2 linked regions of the Homo sapiens genome follow. The protein of the gene in region 1 interacts with the protein of each later gene in a biochemical or structural test. Each region holds a gene or a part of one and is shown in the gene's direction. Other genes may lie near its edges.

The links.
Region 2: the proteins of CAPRIN1 (region 1) and ENG interact on a protein array, tested with the Homo sapiens proteins (one large-scale study listed by IntAct).

The regions. Positions count from the first base shown.
Region 1 is NC_000011.10:34,054,468-34,058,489, forward strand, and holds part of CAPRIN1 (caprin-1), read left to right. Parts: intron 1-4,022. UniProt on the Homo sapiens protein: mRNA-binding protein that acts as a regulator of mRNAs transport, translation and/or stability, and which is involved in neurogenesis, synaptic plasticity in neurons and cell proliferation and migration in multiple cell types.
Region 2 is NC_000009.12:127,827,159-127,830,658, reverse strand, and holds part of ENG (endoglin isoform 1 precursor), read left to right. Parts: intron 1-831; coding exon 832-972; intron 973-3,500. UniProt on the Homo sapiens protein: Vascular endothelium glycoprotein that plays an important role in the regulation of angiogenesis. Required for normal structure and integrity of adult vasculature. Regulates the migration of vascular endothelial cells.

The DNA.
Region 1 (4,022 bases):
CCCAGGCTGGAGTACAATGGCGCGATCTCAGCTCACTGCAACCTCCACCTCCCGGGTTCAAGCGATTCTCCTCCCTCAGCCTCCCAAGTAGCTGGGAGTACAGGTGCCTGCCACCACGCCCAGCTAATTTTTTGTATTTTTAGTAGAGACAGGGTTTCACCCTGTTGGCCAGGATTGTCTCGATCTCTTGACCTCCTGATCCGCCCGCCTTGGTCTTCCAAAGTGCTGTTACAGGAGTGAGCCCCTGTGCCCGGCCTCTTTTTAAAATTTTAATGCAGTAAGCAAGCCTGCTGATCTGGCTGCTACTTGAGTTTTTGATTCTTTAGAATTTCTTGGAAATGTTTTTTTCTAGGACAGTAATTGAACATAAAATATTAATGATTGTGAACATTAATAATGTGTTAATACTAATTATGAACATTAATGATTAGTGATATAAAGTGTAGAGACATTAATGACTGAAAGATAACTCCTCAGAGAAGTTAATATAAAGGTAGGTGCTGATTGGCAGCCAATTTAGTTGTGAGGTGGCTGTTAGAATCTAGTGTTCAAGTACTTCTGAAAAAAAAATATAAATCTAGTTTATAAGCCCCTCCTGAGGACTTGAACCATGACTGGTCATTAAATGTGTATAGGTGTATGTGAATTACTATACTCTGTCATACCCTACCCTCAAGTGATTTTGTTATTTTATTTTTATTTTTTGAGATGAATCTCTGTTGCCCAGGCTGGAGTGCCCAGGCTGGAGTGCGGTAGGATGATCTTGGCTTCCTGCAACCTCCACCTCCCGGGTTCAAGTGATCCTCCCGCTTCAGCCTCCTAAGTAGCTGTGATTACAAGTGTGCGCCACCACCCCAGGCAATTTTTTTTTCTTTGAGAAGTCTCGCTCTTGTCCGCCAGGCTGGAGTGCGACGATGTGATCTCGGTTCACTGCAACCTCCGCCTCCTGGGTTCAAGCGATTCTCCTGCCTCGGCCCCCCGCCCAGAGTAGCTGGGGTTACAGGCACCTGCCACCACGCCCAACTAATTTTTGTATTTTTAGTAGAGACAGGTTTTACCTTGTTGGTCAGGTTGGTCTAGAACTCCTGACCTCAGGTGATCCAGCCGCCTCGGCCTCCCAGAGTGCTGGGATTACAGGTGTGAGCCACCATGCCGGGCCTCCCCTAAAGTCATAAAGGAGAAAATAATGTAATTATTACATAGGTTATTAACTAGGCTAATACATACTGAAAGATTGCCGTGTTAATAATGGAGATTCAACAAACTGCACAAAGTAACTTTTTTTTCTGTCTTCTCAGTGTTTTAAGTGGTAGATAGCAGCAAAAAGGTCAAGTTACAGTTAAGTCTTGAGACTTTGATAAGCCACAGACTGAACTCTACCTACATGTTAAGTAGTTAAGTTGGCAGTATTGATGTTGACTTAATTGCTATTAAAACTATATCTTTTGCCCTTTGAAAAACCCAGGGCATTTGGATTTGCCCTAAATTTAAGCACATCTGGTTTTTAGTTTAAATCCTTTTTATATTTAGATGATTTACTTGTGAGAAGACTTAACTGTTTTTAAGTATAAGTGAGCATTTCTAATGCACTAAAATAGGATTGCTTTACAAATCAGTTTTGAATTCCTCTTTAGAAACCCTTGTGGAGTAAAGTGAGGTACTATTTACAATTAGATTTGTTTTGACTTCAGTCCATTTAGCAACTTACATTTGAGCTTTATTTCAATCTTGACCTATTCTTATCGGAGCCTTCTGGACCAAAATGCTTTTTTTATGGATTTTAAAATCAAATATCCTGGCAAAAATGACTATGGATATGTAGTATTGCTTAAATTAAAACAGAGAATTGAAATAATTTTATTGTACTTTAAAAAACAAAGTTGTTTATTTCCTAATAATTTGAGCCATTAAAGAAAAAGCTAAGCATCTGCTCATTGAGAATGCATGCTCTTAATGTTGATGAAATATGATCGTGTTATGTAATGCAACTAAAAGGCTTGGTGGGTTTTTAAATTCAGGCTTATAAAGAGTACATGAATGTTTAGCAAAGAGAAGAAATACAGCTGTGATAATCAAGTGTAAAATCCATTTGCAAATCTTACAGGTAATATTGAATTGAATGATTAACTGCCTAGTTTTCTTTATCAGTTCATTGGTGCTGAACTGGGCCCTAGGCTATGCAAGATATTTCAAAACCAAGTCTTAATTTTAACTGAAGAGAGACCTCATTTGATATTATTAGATGTAATCAGTTGTGATATAGAATAAAGGATGTTTTAATAGATGACATTTAAAATTGTTATATTCTTTGTGAATATAATAGGTTTAGACTCTAGTGACTTTGGTAGGTGAAAGATTAACTAATGATCACTTGCGTAAAATGCAAAAATAGCCTGACAGCTTTTTAACCACTAAGTGACCAAAACTGATAGCCAGAAGTGTAGTGTTTTTAATACTTTTTCCTGAAGGCTTTCTGCACTTCATCTTTGCAGTTAGTAGTATTCTTTAAAAAGAATGCTGTTGTTGTGAGGGTAACATTTCTTTCTAGAACGTTGCAGTGTGTCTGTGCTTAGAATTTTCATTGCAGCTGTTGTGCAGAACTTATGTGTTCAGTGTTTTAAAATAAAAACATTCTTAACTATTTTATAAGTAAAATCTTTCCTTGAGGCTATTACCTGAAGCCTTCTTTGACATTTAAGATCTCTTGATGTGTTTGCTTTTCCATGGGTTGCAAGAACTATTCTTCTGCAATGCAGAGGGCAAGATTATTTTGCATTCACCTTGTCATAGAAAAAAGCTGTAATGCTTAATTTGTTTCCCTTTGCTTGACTGTGTGTGTTTGTATGTGTAGCACTGGGAAGTATTTAAAGCTGTGAATTCCCCCAAGTGATAATGGGTACCTTTTTCTAGGGTGAGAGTCGAAGCCTAAGTATTACATTGAGAATGTATTGTTTTAACGTGGCCAAATTAGTGTACTCTAGGATACTACCCATGTGGCAGATATTTGAGAATGCATTTTGTGTGACTTACAGATTAAGCATACAATTTGCCAAAATTTTATGTAATTAATTTCCTAGTTTACATTTAGGGCTAGATGAAGACTAGTACTGTTTCATCTTTTAGAAAAACTAACACTTTTCCTTTAGTAAAAGTGTTAATTTTTGCAATACTTTTGCAAAAGGTTAAACTTATAGCAATTTTGTCATAGCTATAATCTTACACTGTTATAAAATTTAGAGGATTTTTAATTTTTATTTATTATCATTATTTGAGACAGTTTTGCTCTCGTTGCCCAGGCTGGAGTGTAATGGCATGACCTCGGCTCACTACAACCTCCCCCTCCCAGGTTCAAGCTATTCTCCTGCCTTAGCCTCCTGAGTAGCTGGGATTACAGGCGCCCGCCACCACGCCCGGCTAATTTTTTATATTTTTAGTAGAGATGGGATTTCACCATGTTGGCCAGGCTGGTCTCAAAACGCCTGACCTGAAGTGATCCACCCACTTCAGCCTCCAAAGTGTTGGGATTATAGGCATGAGCCACCATGTCCGGCCTAAGAGTTTTTTTTTAGAGCTTAAACCACCTTAGAATTTAGTCCAGTTCATTTTATAGAAGACAAAATTGAGATGTTTATATGGAATGACTTAGGTTGGAATGGGTGATTTCCAAAATTCTCGCAGTTTTTTTTGAAACAGAATCTTGCTCTGTCGCCCAGGACTGGAGTGCAGTGGTGCAATCTCAGCTCACTGCAACCTCTGCCTCCTGGGTTCAAGTGATTCTCATGCCTCAGCCTCCCGAGTAGCTGGGATTACAGGTGCATGCCACCACGCCCAGCTAATTTTTGTATTTTTAGTAGAGACGGGGTTTTGCCATGTTGACCAGGCTGGTCTCAAACTCCTGACCTCAAGTGATCTGCACGCCTTGGCCTCCCAAAGTGCTGGGATTACAGGCGTGAGCCACCACACCCGGCCTCTTAAATAATGTTTTATGGGAGTAATTAGAATTTGTAATGTTCCACGGCCTA
Region 2 (3,500 bases), on another chromosome or scaffold:
TTTTTTTTTTTGAGACGGAGCGTCATTCTTGTTGCCCAGGCTGGAGTGCAATAGCGCAATCTCAGCTCACTGCAACCTCTACCTCCTGGGTTCAAGAGATTCTCCTGCCTCAGCCTCCCAAGTAGTTGGAATTACAGGCATCCACCACCACCCCACCTGGCTAATTTTTTGTATTTTTAGTAAAGACGGGGTTTCACCATGTTGGACAGACTAGTCTCGAACTCCTGACCTCAGGTGATCCACCTGCCTCAGCCTCCCAGAGTGCTGGGATTACAGGTGTGAACCACCATGCCCGGCCTTTTTTTTTTTTTTTTTTTTAGATGGAGTCTCACTCTGTTGCCCAGGCTAGAATGCAGTGGTGCCATCTCAGCTCAATGCCACCTCTGCCCCCAGGGTTCAAGCAATTCTTGTGTCTCAGCCTCCCCAGTGGCTGAGATTATAGGCACCCACCACCACGCCTGGCTAATTTTTGTATTTTTAGTACAGATGGGGTTTCACCATGTTGGTCAGGCTGGTCTCCAACTCCTGACCTCAGGTGATCCGCCCACCTCAGCCTCCCAAAGTATTGGGATTACAGACGTGAGCCACCGTGCCCAGCCTAATTTTTTTTCTCTCTTCAGATTTGCCGGGCTTACCTCCTTCATTTGTTTATTGTGAATTCCCTGAGGATGGCCAGAGGGACAGGCACTACCCTGGGCACTGGGAGGTGAGGGTGGACAGAGCAGGCAGGGAGAGTGGAGTGGAAGCATCCAAATCATCACTGCCTGTCTGGGTGGCACAACCTATACAAATCTGACTGGACTGTGTGTGTCTCTCCTCTGTGTCCCCCAGGGCCCGTCACAGCTGGAGCTGACTCTCCAGGCATCCAAGCAAAATGGCACCTGGCCCCGAGAGGTGCTTCTGGTCCTCAGTGTAAACAGCAGTGTCTTCCTGCATCTCCAGGCCCTGGGAATCCCACTGCACTTGGCCTACGTGAGTGTGTTCCCTCCAACCCCAGGCTGAGGCTCTGGCCATGGGAGGTCCCTACTGTCCATCTCTGTGGGTCAGGGTCTCCCACCCCAGCGGCCCAGCCCTGCTTCTCCCTTTCATCTTGACATTATTCACCAGGGTCCTGCCTGGTGAAGCCAATGGTCTCTACCAGAGAGAACCCAGAGGGCACCAGGACTACAGTAAAGAGTCTAGACCAAGAGGTGGGAGTCAGGTTGATGTGCAGCCCTGGCCAACTCTGATCCTCTGCATAGGCTCAGTTTGCCTCTCTGTCCAGTGGGACAACTGAACTCAATATTTTATATGATAATCTTTTCATTGTCTTTGAAAAAGTTACACGACATATATTTGAAAATATTTAAAGACAGAGGAAAAGGGCCAGGAGAAAACCTAACGTGTTAACAGTGGTTATGGCTGGGAAGTGGGATTAGGAGAGACATTTAGTTGGTTCTTCACACTTTGTTGAGTTTGCAAGAGTTGCTCTAAATGGATTTGGCCTATTTTGGAGAAAAAAGTATTTTTAAAAAACTCAAGTTTTCAGGTCAGCTGTGGATTTGGGAAAAACAATTAAAAACAAACAACCAAAAGCCTCAACTTTTAAAAGTGTTAGCTATATCCACCAGAGAGAGGAGGTCAGGGAGCTGGGACCCACTGCCAGAGGTCAGGGCTGGAGGAGGCAGGGTGGCTTGCCAGCACTGCCTCCTCCATGAGGAATGTCTGGGAGGTGGCCCCCAGATGTGAGCAGCTGTTGTTTACAACAGAGAAAGCAGAGGGTAGGAAGGGGAGAGCCCGGGGGAGAGCAAAGATAGCAAAGGGGAGAGAGGCATAGAAAGAAACATGCCCACTGCGGGAGGGAGGCAGGCTTGAGCGAAGTTGGGCGTGGGGGACAGGGGAGAAGCTTCCGGACTGGTGACAGGGACAGCACAGAGACAGTCAGACATGACCAAGCCAGCATGCCAAAGTCCTAGGAGGGAGGGGGCCAAATCCAACCACCAGGGCCAAGAGGATTTGACTCCTTGCAGCCCATCCCTCGGCCGCCCAGAAGGGGAATCGAGGTCCCAGAGGGGGCGTGGCCTTTACCATGGATCCTCCCCCTTCCCGATCTGAGTCCGTGCAGCCCAGGGTGAGGCAGGAACATGAAACGCGCCCGCCAGCCGGAAGGTCGCAGTAGCCGCCGGCTCTGGCCTCGGCCGCGCCGCCTTCCTCCTGGGGCCGCGCTGCTTCCCGAGCGGGCTCCCTGGGGCCGGTGGCCAGAGGGGACAAAGAGGCCAAGGCGCGGCCTCGGTGGCCGACCCAGTGCCAGGCGACCAACAGACGTCGTGCCCTGCTGTATCCCCATTTTACAGGGGCTGACTCAAGGATCAGATCCCTTTCCCAACCCAGCTGTAAAGCCAGTGTCCCAGCCCTTTCCCATTCCGCGGGCTGGGTTCCTCACCCAAGATGCCCATCACTTTGCCCCCTTGTTGAATCCCTACAGAGAAGGTATCTACTTCCTTCTAGATGGGCCATTCTAGGGTGTCTTGTCTACTGTTGCCATCTGGCAGTCCTCAATATCTAGCTTGGGCCAGGCGACCTGGCTTATGTCTGTAATCCCAACACTTTGGTAAGCCGAGGCAGGAGGGTCTCCTTTTTTTTTTTTTTTTTTTTTTTTTGAGATGGAGTTTCACTCTTGTTGCCCAGGCTGGAGTGCAATGGCCCCATCTCGCCTCACTGCAACCTTCGCCTTCTGGGTTCAAGTAATTCTCCTGCCTCAGCCTCCCGAGTAGCTGGGATTACAGGCACCTGCCACCACCCCCACCTCATTTTTTGTATTTTTAGTAGAGACAGTGTTTCATACCGTGTTGGCTAGGCTGGTCTCGAACTCCTGACCTCAGGGGATCCACCCGCCTCGGCCTCCCAAAGTGCTGGTTTACAGGCGTGAGCCACTGTGCCTGGCCAGGAGGGTCTCTTGAGGCCAGGAGTTGGAGACCAGCCTGGGCAACATAGTGAGACCCTCGTCTCTAAAAAATTATAATAAAAAATATTTTTAAATCCAACCCGAAGCCCTTTTGCCCTTCTGCTGCTGCTGTTTCATTCAGCTCAATGCCCTTGGCTTTGGAGACTGTACACTAAGAGCTCAGTCAGTGGCCCCAACAGCTTCCTCTGAATCCTTCAGCTTTCCAGAGTCACTCTTCCAGGAAGTCTTCCCTGTCTGCTTTCCTCCTCACCCCCAACCCCCATTTCTTCTGAGGCAATGGCAGGGTAGGCAGTGAGATGCTGAAGCCACCCAGACTCCCCATCCCTGTCCAACCAGGAGATCTGTCTGGCTCCTTTGTTTCTTATTAAATAAAATTCTGTCTTCTATTGTTTCAAATGACTTGATGCATGTCTAGTTTCTGAATGGTAATATCCCCTAGGGCAGGGACCACTGATATCTGTCTTTAATTCATTAATTCATTCATCCATCCCTTTCTTCTTTCTTCCCTTTCTCCCTGTCTTCCCATAGGCGGGGAGCACCCATCACATGCTGGGTG